3 separate regions of the Homo sapiens genome follow, and all the other regions are linked to region 1. The links come from fine-mapping of genetic effects on gene expression. A gene starts in region 1. Each other region holds a variant in brackets. All regions are shown on one strand. Distances are from middle to middle.

What was found. PIP is the estimated chance that this variant, and not a neighbour inherited with it, causes the effect.
Region 2: its variant is fine-mapped to the expression of RAD50 in monocytes (TOPMed, PIP above 0.99).
Region 3: its variant is fine-mapped to the expression of RAD50 in lung (TOPMed, PIP 0.98).

What each region holds. Positions count from the first base shown.
Region 1 is chr5:132,555,413-132,559,412 of GRCh38, reverse strand. It overlaps RAD50 (RAD50 double strand break repair protein), which reads right to left and starts at 2,436. Exons shown (of 25, transcript NM_005732.4): 1 at 1,960-2,436; 2 at 46-129. The coding sequence starts at 2,088. It also overlaps a transcript of IL5 not described here. RefSeq lists an enhancer at 2,153-2,813.
Region 2 is chr5:132,727,254-132,731,601 of GRCh38, reverse strand. The region is part of intron 2 of KIF3A (kinesin family member 3A); the gene reads left to right. Among named protein-coding and RNA genes, the nearest start is that of KIF3A, 8.1 kb to the left of the region's middle. The variant C/T (reference allele first, on the strand shown) is at 2,661.
Region 3 is chr5:132,762,258-132,766,605 of GRCh38, reverse strand. It overlaps SEPTIN8 (septin 8), which reads left to right. Exons shown (of 10, transcript NM_001098811.2): 2 at 1,077-1,197; 3 at 2,187-2,382; 4 at 2,714-2,900; 5 at 3,961-4,122. Among named protein-coding and RNA genes, the nearest start is that of SEPTIN8, 13 kb to the left of the region's middle. The variant C/T (reference allele first, on the strand shown) is at 1,760.

The sequences.
Region 1 (4,000 bases):
CATTTTTATAATTATAAAAATACAAAATTGTACTAGCACCATTACCTTGGGATCGTGTACAAATGTATTTCCTTTGGTTCCAGGAGGGAAATCTCCAGTACAAATATATTTTAGACATTCAATGATGGTCTAAAGAAATAGAAAATTACATTATTTCGTTATAAGAGAACCACAGAAGTTTACCATAAAATATGAATTCATTACAAAAATATTATTTATCATGGAAACTATAAAAGATAAAATCTGACATTATAAAACCTGTAATAAAAATATGATTAAGTGTTAATGCTGTAAGTTCACAGAAATGCTATATAACTAAGAAGTTATCCTAATATGAAGAATTGTTACTTGGGAAAAAAATAATTATTTTCAACTGAAACCCTTTAAACTAATTTAAGTTAATAATAAGAATGGCTAACAGTTAAGTACTGTATTGTACTAAGCACTCTTACATACATTTATTTAATTCTCACATTAACTCCAGGCTGTAGGAACTTTTTGTTTAAGAGACAGGGTCTCATTCTGCTGCCCAGGCTGCAGTGCAGCTGCATGATCATGGCTTACTGCAGCCTCGACCTCTCGACCTCCTGGGCTCAAGCAATCCCCCAGCCTCAGCCTCCCAAACGGCTCGGATTACAGTCGTCAGCCACCATGCCCAGCCTGTAGAAACTTTTTTTTTTTTTTTTTTTTTTTTGTGGGGGGAGAGAGTCTCCCTCTGTCACCCAGGCTGGTGTAGTGCAATGGCGTGATCTCGGCTCACTGCAACCTCCACCTCCCCGGTTCAAGCGATTCTCCCGCCTCGGCCTCCCCAGTAGCTAGGATTACAGGCATGCGCCACCACGCCTGGCTAATTTTTGTATTTTTATTAGAGATGGGGTTTCGCCACGTTGGCCAGGCTGGTCTCGAACTCCTGACCTCAGGTGATCCACCCGCCTCGGCCTCCCAAAGTGCTGGGATTACAGGCGTGAGCCACCGTGCCCAGCTGTAGAAACTATTTTTAATCTCCATTTTATAAATGAGAAAACTAAGGCACAGAGCAGTGAGGTCACTCGCAAACAATCAGACAACTAATAAATGAAGCGAAAAAGCTGTATTGAGGCAGCCAGTCCTCATAAACACTATACAGTACTACTCTCCCTTCTGCTAGTATTTAGTACAATCCTAAGTACATAACAAGCATTCAACAAATAACATTTTTACAAAAACAAAAGTAAACAAGTTTGGCATTCAATTCTCAACCTTCTCTCTTTCTACACTCTTCACAAATCCTTCCTTTAGACTCTTCTCCCTGCTATACTGACATCGTCTTGCTTTTTCTTAAGCCACTATTCCTGACCAGAATGCCTCTTGGTTATTCTTTCCATTCAAATTTATAAATATTCCCACGGCTTTAAAAAAAAAAAAAAGTCAGTCGTGCACCAACGTTAAATTTTTGACTGAGTTTTAAGAAGAGAAGTTTTCCAAGTTAAGCCCCACTACATCAGTTACATTTTGAATTTATTTATTTTCCATGTATTATGTCTGGACAGTTGGCATACTTGGAAACTCTTTAGTCATGTATGTATCATTTTATAACTTTTAAAGGAATTCTTGTATGGGACAACTACTGGGAAGTGAATGCTATGCTTTGAAAGCAAGGAGACAGCGTTAAAAACATCAATACAGACCAAAGGGCATCCAGTGGGAACTGAACTCTGAGTGAGCGGCGACAGCTCCCGGTATCGTGGGATTCTTAAGTAAACCTTGTCCCCAGGCCAGGTCCGGACATCCTTCCGAGACTGCTTCAGGCAAACTCCTAAGGTCGCTGTAGCCTGCAGGCCACACCCTAAGGCACTTTAAGGGCCTACACCTGTGGAGCCCTAGGGACGCTTCTGCTCCTAAGGAGAGTTCTCAACTTCCCATTTTATTCTCCGAAAGATGTAGCGACCTGTAAACTGAAGGCGGCTACTGAAGACTTACCGTCTTTCCCGCCCCATTGGGTCCAACCAAAATTGTAAGGGGGCTGAAGAAAGTGATAATTTGCTTATCTTTGTCCTCTATTCCAAAACTCCGCACGCCCAGAATGCTCATCTTTTCGATCCGGGACATGTTTGCAAACGTTTCTAATCTCACCAGGGACCTGGAGCCCACAAAGGCTTAACTGAGGCCGAAGCAAGGCGTGCACGGGACGTGAGACCCGCGAATCTCAGGGTCAGGAGGATCCGGGCGGGGAGCGAGGCCACAGGACTGCCAAAAGATCCTGCCAGCCAACAGCGGGAGAGAGGGGGCGGGGGATGGAGCCTTTCCTCCCACACCAGCTGCTTTCCCCGCCGGTGGGGAGAGCGGAGGCGGGGACCAGCCTGGGGCTGCCCGCCGGGGACGCAAAGCCGTAGCCACAATGCGACCCCGCAACCGCGCACTCACAGCTTCCTGCCTCGGCCGCCCTGCGGATCACGTGGGCCTCTAGGCCCGCACGCGTCCACGCCGCTCTCCTGGGGCACGCCGGGAAATCAGAGTCCCGCGGTGCGTGCGCAGCTCCGACTTCCGGGTGCGGTACGGCGAAGCAGAGGGCTAGGTGCTGGGTGCTGTTGCCAGGGGCAGCGGACTTCCGGATCTTTGCTGGGGATGGGCAGCCTGGAGAGGCACTGACTTTTGGAAGGGGAGACCAAGACCTGTGACGGATGGCGCTTCCCAAAGCTTGATCCTGGGACTCCTGGAATGGGGGTAGTGGTGGGGTGGATTGGAGACCCAGGAAGCGGGGTCAGTTCGTGTCAAAACTATTTTCCTTTTCATTCTCATTCTCTCTCTAACGTTCGTGTAGTAATTTCCAGTGATCACATAACATGTGATGACGCCATTGCAGTGGCGGTTAATGGAATGTGCGCATGTGTATTCTTGCGCTTAGAAATACCAATTTTAATTTCTAATTGAGTAAATGTTGATAATTATAACTCACGTACACGCTCTTTGAGGTCCCCCGTAATTTTTTAGTGTAAAGGCGTCTTTAAGACCAAAAGTCTGGGAACTAAAACTAAAAGCAGTCTGCAAATATGAAGAATGTAGAGGTAATCCATTCCGATCAGTGCTCCCAGCAATAGATATCTTTAAAAATAAGGGAAAGAGAAGTTACCTGTCTCAGAAGTAACTGAGAATATTGCTTTCTTGGAAACAAACTTAATGGAGGGATATCACATTTAAGGGCCTAGAGAAACATACATAAAAATTACTGAAACAATAGTGGAGGACATTTAAATGAAACACAAATTTGGAATTACTGTAGTGGTATAATTTGCCTCTGCCTGCCTTGGAAAAATGTAGGAAATGTTTCTCCAGTCATACAATCCCAAGCAAATAATTTACAGAACCTAATACATAAATGTATGTGCCAAAGGATGCAAGTGGGGAAGACCAGTGAGAAATAGTCTCTTGCTGTACCAGGTTAAAAAAAACCGGAAAGTGTCAGTTATTACAAAATAGTTAAAATAACTAATGGAACAAAACATTAAAATTATATAGGAATGTCTTACTTGGCAAAGCAAATGTAATAAAACAATGGGAAAAGACGAAAGACCTTTTTTTATTTTAAAAATTGTAAAATACACATAAAATTTACTGTCTTGGCCAGGCGCGGTGGCTCACGCCTGTAATCCCAGCACTTTGGGAGGCCGAGACGGGTGGATCACGAGGTCAGGAAATGAAGACCATCCTGGCTAACACGGTGAAACCCCGTCTCTACTGAAAACACAAAAAATTAGCCGGGCATGGTGGCAGGCGCCGATGGTCCCAGCTACTCAGGAGGCTGAGGCAGGAGTATGGCATGAACCCGGGAGGCGGAGCTTGCAGTGAGCCGAGACCGCACCACTGCACTCCAGCCTGGGCAACAGAGCGAGACTCCGTCTCAAAAAGAATTTACTATCTTAACCAAGTGTACATTTCAGTGGTGTTAAGTATACTCACGTACAACCGTCACCACCTTTCAACCTCTACAAATCTTTTCACTTTGCAAAACAAACTACCCATT
Region 2 (4,348 bases), 170 kb before region 1:
GAGAGTGGACATTTTGGTCTTGTTCCTGATCTTAGGGAAAATGCATTCATTCTTTCACCAGTATGATGATGTCTGTAAATTTTAACAGATATCCTTTGTAGGTTTGAGGAAGTTCCCTTCTATTCTTAGTTCGCTGAGAGTTTTTGGATTGTATATTGGATTTTGTCAAATGTAATTTTTTTTCTGCACCTATTGAAATAATCTTTTTTTTTAAGGTTTGTTAATATGGTCAATTACATTGATTGATTTTTGAATGTGAAACTAGCTTTGCCACTTGGTCATGATGCATTATTCTGTTCATATATTGTTAGATTTATTTGCTAAATTAAAAAAATTTTGGCATCCATGTTCATGAGGGATGTAAGTATATAGTTTTCTTCTAATGCATTTTTCTGGTTTGGGTATTGTGATAATGCTAGTTTCATAGAATGGGTTAGAAAGTATCCCCTTCTTTTCAGTTTTCTAGAAGAATTTGTCTAGAATTGGTATTATTTCTTAAATGTTTGGTAGAATTCATCAGTGAAGCCATCTGGGCTTGAAGTTTTCTTTGTGGGAAGGTTTTCAACTATTGATTCAATTTCTTTAATAGACATAAGACTATTCAGATTATGTATTTTTTCTTTTTCTCTTTAAATCAGGGTCTCACTCTGTTACCCAGGCTGGAGTACAGTGGCACAATCACAGCTCACTGCAGCCTCGACTTCCTGGCCTTAAGCAATCCTCCCACCTCAGCCTCCCCAGTAGCTGAGGCTACAGGTGTGTGCTACCACGCCTGGCTAATTTTTTCTATTATTATTATTTTTTTCTTGAAACAGGGTCTCACTCTGTCGACCAGGCTGGAGTGCAGTGGTGTGATCATGGCTCACTTAGCGTCTACCTCCCGGGCTCAAGCGATCCTCCCACTTCAGCCCCCTGAGTAGGTGGGACTATATGTGTGTGCCACCGCACCATGCCCAGCTAATTTTAATTTTTTTTTGGTAGAGATAAGGGTCTCACTATGTTTTCTAAGCTGGTCTTGAACTCCTGGACTCAACCAGTCCTCCCACCTCAGCCTTGCAAAGCACTGGGATTACAGACATGAGCTACCGTGCCCGGCCAGGTTATCTATTTTTTCTTTTTTTTTTTTTCTTTTTTTGAGACAGAGTCTTGCTCTGTTGCCCAGGCTGGAGTGCAGTGGCGCGATCTCGGCTCACTGTCTCCTCTGCTTCCCCGGGTTCCAGCGATTCTCTCGCCTCAGCCACCTGGGTAGCTGGGATTACAGGCACACGCCACCATGCCTGGCTCATTTTTGTAGTTTTAGTAGGGACGGGTTTCACCGTATTGGCCAGGCTGGTCTCAAACTACTGACCTCAGGTGATCCGCCTGCCTTGGCCTCCCGGAGTGCTGGGATTACAGGCGTGAGCCACCGTGCCCAGCCAGTTTTTTCTTAAGTGAGGTTTGGTAGCTTGTCTTTCACGGAATTAGTCCGTTTCATCTAAGTTGTCAAATTCATTGGCAAAAGGTTGTTTATACTATTCCCTTATTATTCTTTTAGTATGTTGAATGTAGTGGTATAACTTTTCTCATTTTTGATATTGGTAACTTACGTCTTTTCTTTTTTTCCTGATTAGTCTGACTAGAGGTTTATCTTATCGATCTTCTCAGAGAACCAGCTTTTGGTTTTATTAATTTTTCTTTCTGTTTTTATGTTTCCTATTTCATCTATTTCTGCTCTGATCTTTATTTTTTTTTCTTACTTACTTTGGGCTTAATTTCCTCTTTTCTTTCTACTTAAAGTGGAAGCTGAGGCCATGGTTTGAGACCTTTTTTCCTTTCTAATATGGGAGTTTAATGCTATAAATTGCCACTGAGTACTGTTTTAGTGTCATCCCACAGATTTTGACATACTATGTTTTCATTTTCATGTAGTTCAAAATACTATTTTACCTCCTGATTTATTCTTTGATCCTGGGTTATTTAGAAATGTGTTATTTAGTTTCCAAATATTTTTAAATTCTCTAGAGATTTTTGGTTATTGGTTTCTAATTTAATCTCAATTTAGAGAACATATTTTTTATGGCTTGAATGTTTTTAAATTTATTAAGACTTGTTTTATGACCCAGAATATAGTTTTGTTGTTGTTGTTGTTTTCTGTTTGTTTTGTTTTTTTCAAGACAAGGTCTCACCCTGTCACCCAGGCTGGGGTGCAGTGGCACTATAACGGCTCATTGCAGCCTCAGCCTCCTGGACTCAAGTGATTCTCTCGCTTCAGCCTTCCCAGTAGCTGAGACTACAGGAGCATCCCACCATGTCTGGCTAATTTTTTTTTAAATTTAGTTTTAATTTCAATAAGTTTTTGGGGAACAGGTGGTGTTTAGTTACATGAATAAGTTCTTCAGTGGTGATTTCTGAGATTTTGGTGCACCCATCACCCAAGCAGTGTACACTGTACCCAATGTGTAGTCTTTTATCTCTCACTCGCCTCCCACTCTTTCCCCTGAGTTCCCAAAGTCCGCTGTATCGTTCTTACGCCTTTGCACCCTCCTAGCTTAGCTCCTACTTGTAAGTGAGAACATACGATGTTTGATTTTCTGTTCCTGAGTTACTTCTCTTAGAATAATAGTCTCTAGTTCCATCCAGGTTGCTGCCAGTGCCATTATTTTGTTCCTTTTTATGCATGC[C/T]TGGCTAATTTTTAAAATTTTTTGTAGAGATGGGGTCTCACTGTGTTGCCTAGGTGTTGCCTAGCTGGTCTTGAACTCCTGGGCTCAGGTGATTCTCCCACCTCAGCCTCTCAAAGTGCTGGGACTATAGCAGGAGCCACGGCACCCAGCCCAGAATATAGTTTATTATATTTATTTATTTATTTATTTATTTATTGTATTTTTTGAGACAGAGTCTCACTCTGTCACCCTGGCTGGAGTGCAATGGTGCGATCTTGGCTCACTGCAGCCTTCGCCTCCCAGGTTCAAGCAATTCTTGTGCTTCACCTTCCCGAGTAGCTGGGACTACAGGCATGTGCCACCACACCCAGCTAATTTTTGTATTTTTAGTAGAGGTGGAGATTCACCATGTTGGCCAGGCTGGACTCAAACTCCTGACCTCAAGTGATCTGCCCTCCTTGGCCTCCCCAAAGTTCTGGGATTACAGGCATGAGCCACCCCGCCTGGCCATAGTTTATTATCTTTAAATAATAGTAATAATAATAAATAGTGCCTATTTTTTAGGATTGGGGTGAAAGTTAAATAAGAATGCAAACATAGCTGGGAGGTGCACCTGTAATCCCAGCTATTTACAGGTGGATTACAGGCAGGAGGATTCTCCTGAGCCCAGGAGTTTGAGGCTGCAGTGAGCTATGATCGTGCCACTGCTCTCTAGTCTGAGTGACAGGGCAAGACCTCATCTCTTAAAAAAAAAGCATGTAAAGTACATGACCTAGCACATAGCAAATGATCAGTAAGTGACAGCTGATGTCCTTATAAAGCTTATTTTTTATTTAATAATTTAATGTGTCTATTCTGAAATGCAGTCTATGAGCTCATGATATTTTCTGCTTCAAGTGCAGTGTTATATTCCTAATAGCAGAGTTTGAAATACTTAGTCAGTTTGAAAAAATTAAGACTTTTTTATTCCCATGTGTAAAAAATGGCTTCTGGTATGATTCATTTATTTTCACGGAAAAGTCTGAAAAGTGTGTTATGATTATTTTCACAAAAAAAAGTCTGAGAAAAGTTGAGGTTAACTGAATAGAGTAGTATTAGTTGAGGAACCGTTTTCATATATGCCATCACATCCAAGGCTATCTTTTCTTACTACACTGTGTCCTGACCAACTACTCCAGCCCTCTGTTTCCCCACATCGACCCTTGGTTTTCTCCAATTCTTCATCCACAATATAGCCATAGTGATCATGATGTCACTCCTCTGATTGAAAAATCATTCTATGGCTTCATGTTGCTTTTAGGATAAGGTCTAAAAAGTTTAATACCGTCCTTATTATACTGTGTGATTATGGCATTGTCAGTTTCTCTAGCTCTGCCTGCATCCATCTTCCCTTTCCATCTCTGTTTCTTCCATTCTGGTCTCATTTCAGTCCTCAAAATTTCCATTCTTTTTCTTGGCTCTTGCTGTCCACACTGTTCCTATCTGATTCTTACTTGTATTTCAGATCTAAACCTTACCTCTTCTGGAAAGTCCTCCCTGACCCCCTCTCCTTTTTCCCATTACAATTCCTGTGCCTAGTTGATGTCCCTGACTCCCATCTAGAACTCCCTGTTTCTCATTCTGAATACTCATCATCATGATAAACCCAAGATTATACACATCATAAGATTAGGGATTGTGTTTGTCTTGTCACTGTGTCTCTAGTGCCT
Region 3 (4,348 bases), 210 kb before region 1:
GGCTCAGGAATGGAGGAGGCATGACTCTGCACAACATGGAGCTGCCTAAGGTCTGCCCTCCAGAGGGGCTGAACCTGGGAACCTTCCCTCGGGCAGCATTTTACCCCATTCCAGGGAGTCAGAGAAACCAGCCACACAAGTTGGAGTGTGACCATGACCCTCTGCTTTGGGTCCTCGTGGTTTCTTTTTATAGAGCGGTGGGCCACCTCCAGTGGCCCCAGCTCACTCGGGGCCTGCCGCTCAGCCCTCTGCTAAGGCCAGGCCTCCACATTCTTACCCGGAACCTTCTGTCTAGACAACCAGGGCTGAGATGGGGGTGGAAGGGTGGCAGGAGTCAGGAGCCAGGAGCTGGGGGTCTCTAGAGAATACCACTGAGGCAGAAGGGAGGAGGCCTCAGAGTCTCAGTCCCTTTGAAACCCACCCCTGAGCCCCACGGGGGGGTTGTGTGAGTGAGGGCCGGCTCCTTTAGCAGGGTCCATGCATGAGTCCCACACGTGGGTGTGTGAGGAGCAGGGGTGAACATGGAGGGCTACGAGCCCAGCTGATAGAGAAGGCTCCTCTGAGGGAGCATGCTTGTGAGGGGTTTGGACCAGACGTGGCCCTACTTGAGTCCTGCATCAGTGGGAGGGCCTGGGAGGACTAGGCAGGGGCAGCATCCCCCGTCTCCTAGAGCTGGCTGCAGGAACAGACACACTTTCCAATCTGGTCCTCTGGGACCATCTGGGGCCTCCTCCTGAGTAGGAAAACAGGTGGGCCCTTATGGGTAGCAACCACAGCCCCTGGGGCCACCTATGCCAGGAGACATGGAGCCCTCAGCCCAGGCATCCCTGGCCATCCCAGGTGGAGCAAAGCTACAGAGTGGAAGGGCCTTTCCCCCTGGGGGCATCGGGCTCCCTCTGGGGAAACTTGGCCTGGAGTTGGTGCTCGGGTGTACTCAGGGTGTGTCTGAGATTTGTTGAGAATTCAGACATCGGGTGGGGCTGCTTCACTGTTTTAACTCAGATTTAGCGCCCACCCCGCAGCTTGACCTTTCTTCCCCAGTGGGCTCATGTCTTGCTTTATTTCTCTCTTGGCAGAATGCAGAGCCAGAGCCCCGGAGCCTCTCCCTGGGCGGCCATGTGGGTTTCGACAGCCTCCCCGACCAGCTGGTCAGCAAGTCGGTCACTCAGGGCTTCAGCTTCAACATCCTCTGTGTGGGTGAGTGTCAGGGCCTGGCCTCAGACAGAGGGTGGGTGAGAACCTCCTGGGAGAGGGGGTGCTTCTGGCCCCCTGTTGAGCTGCAAGGGGGCTTCCCAGGCAGAGTGAAACTTTGGGGGTGTCAGGACGAGGATTTGGTTGGTGTCTCTGCCAGAGTCAAGGATAGAGTTAGAGCCAGGGCCTGACACAGCATTGTCATGAAGAGTAAACTGGATCGGGCACATGAAAGTGCTTTGTAAACTGTGGGTGTTTATCACAGAGATTTAGGTTCATTTATTCATTTGTTTGTTCATTTAAAAAACATGTACTCATTTACTGCTTCCCACCCTGTGTCAAGGACGTTATGGTAAACAGCTCTGCCCCTCATCACCATATCCTATGGTAAGTGCTCCAGCACGCATGTGAACAAATAACAGCCCCAAGCAGAGAGGCTCTCGGAGGTTCCCTGGGACTCCCAGAAGGACACAAAGTGCTCTTCTGGTCCCTCTGCAGGTGTCCTTCGGGAAGCAGCCCATCCTGAGTTCCCCCAGCTAAAGCCATGTGGAGCTAGGGCTGTCCGGGG[C/T]GCATGGGTTGAGCCACTGGTGGCTTTAGACCCTGGCCCTCTTGGTCCCATGACCACCCTGGTCCCAGGAGGGGTGTTGTGTAGAGCAGGTTATGTGTGAGGTGATTGGGTCTGCAGTGGTGTCTACACAGCTGCCTGGCTCTGTCTCTTCCCTGCTCCCTGAGGAAATACATCACATATCACACACAGCTATGTCTTCTGTCCAAGTTCACCTTTTGGCTCTTCCTTCCACAGGTTATTTCTGAGGCCACAGGAAAAGATAGTTCCTGGGGAATGGGGGTGATGAGGGATGGGGTGGGCGGCCTGCCCCTTTCTCTTATCCAGGGGCCATGGATGCCTGAGCCCTGCCTGGCCTAGCCACCAGTCAAGGACAGCCCATTTCCAGCCTATGACACCCACTTCTTCCCCTCCTGTCCTCACTGCCCAGGGGAGACCGGCATTGGCAAATCCACACTGATGAACACACTCTTCAACACGACCTTCGAGACTGAGGAAGCCAGTCACCATGAGGCATGCGTGCGCCTGCGGCCCCAGACCTATGACCTCCAGGAGAGCAACGTGCAGCTCAAGCTGACCATTGTGGATGCCGTGGGCTTTGGGGATCAGATCAATAAGGATGAGAGGCAAGAGGCGGGAAGGGCGGCCCCACCCAGCCTCCTCCCACCCCACCTACATTGGCCCCTATAACAGTAGCCCAGCCCTCACACTGCAGGGGGCCAGGGAGGGCCTCTTGGGGAATATCTGAGGCTCTGTGGTCACCAACAGACCAGTTACTCCTTTAGGTGTCTGGAGAAGGGGTCAGCTGCCTGTATCCAGTCAGGGATCTCAGGCAGAAGCTGTTCCCAGAAAGAAAAGGCCAGGGGGCAGCCTGGCTTGGCCCCGAGCCCTGAGCCCCCCAAGCCCCAAGCCCCTGATCTCAGCTGGCAGCCTCCTGGGTGATGGAGCTGTCTGTAGTTACAGGCCCATAGTTGACTACATCGATGCGCAGTTTGAAAATTATCTGCAGGAGGAGCTGAAGATCCGCCGCTCGCTCTTCGACTACCATGACACAAGGATCCACGTTTGCCTCTACTTCATCACGCCCACAGGGCACTCCCTGAAGTCTCTAGATCTAGTGACCATGAAGAAACTAGACAGCAAGGTATCCCTGTCCCCACCTGCTGTCACAGGCTCCATAGTCTTCTGCTGCGATGCGATGTGGTGGCTGCCTCATGCCTGAACACCATGGTCCTCAGGGACCTGGTCGGGGGCTTGTGGGTGGCCCCCCATTGGCTCGGTCCTCTCTCTGTCTTGCGTCTGTTCCTCCTGCTCCAGTGGCCCCCAATGCTCTGGGCTCATTCTCCAGAGTCCTGTGCCCTGGGTCTGACCCTGAGCCCCTTGCTTGCAGCTGAATCATTCTCATTGTCAGCCCCTCCCGCTCCCGATAGTGTTTGTTCCCCTTCGCTCCAGGGAACCTCCCTTCCCATCTCAGCCTCTTCTCTGCTCATTTTCTATCTCTCAATTCCTAATTTCTAGCTCCTCCTTTCACTTCCCCCTTCCTCCCTGACATAAATGTCCTTTGGTTCCTTCTGAGCCCATCAGGGAGAGGAGAGTTAAGGCCCAGAAATGGGATGTGAATGAGGGGTGGGTACTGTAGGGGTAGAGAAGGGAGGCAGCTTCATGGGAAGGACTGGAAGTGCTGTGCATCTTGAAGGGCATGTGACCCCACATCCCTTGTCAGCTCTCACGTGACTGCCCTCCCATCTCAGGAGTTCATTTTTATTGTAAAAAACGGGATAGCCTGGGCCTGGGAGATTTTGGGATCTTCTTATGGCTACTGCTGATGGGTCCTTTTACCTGCTTAGTGGGGAGCATAGCCCCCCCACCACTCCTTCTGTTAGGCCCCAGGCCAATTAGGACCTTCAAAGGATTCTGGGTCAAAGCTGGGTATGCCTAGGGGGACCAGTTTTGGGGCTGGATGGTGATTTGGGGGAACCAGGGCTGTAAGAAGCACTGCAGCCAATTGTTGAAACTCATCAGAATGGCCACAGGTGGCTGGGTTTGCACTATGGCTGCCCGTGGGAGTGGCTCCATCTCTCTGGCCTCCTTCCCCCTGCCCAGGGATATGGCCTGGGCATGTCTATCCATATCCTGGGCATGGCATGGGAACCACCGCTCAAAAGAGCCAACCAGCCTGCTGTCCCCTCCCCTGATCCTGGCAGGTGAACATTATTCCCATCATCGCCAAGGCTGACACCATCTCCAAGAGCGAGCTCCACAAGTTCAAGATCAAGATCATGGGCGAGTTGGTCAGCAACGGGGTCCAGATCTACCAGTTCCCCACGGATGATGAGGCTGTTGCAGAGATTAACGCAGTCATGAATGTGAGCGTTGGGTGAGGGCCTCAGGGCCCTGGGGCCAGAGGGCGAGGAGCCGGCACAGATCTGACACAGCCCCAGGAGACTCTTGTTCCCCAGGATTCCAGCCTTAGCTTCTCCAGGACAGAAGGGTGGGCATCTGGAGCTGGCCAGTCCTACATCTGTGGGCAGGGGACAGGAAGAATCTGATAGTGGGCCTACACTGGGGACCCCAGGTTTGGGTGTCATAAGA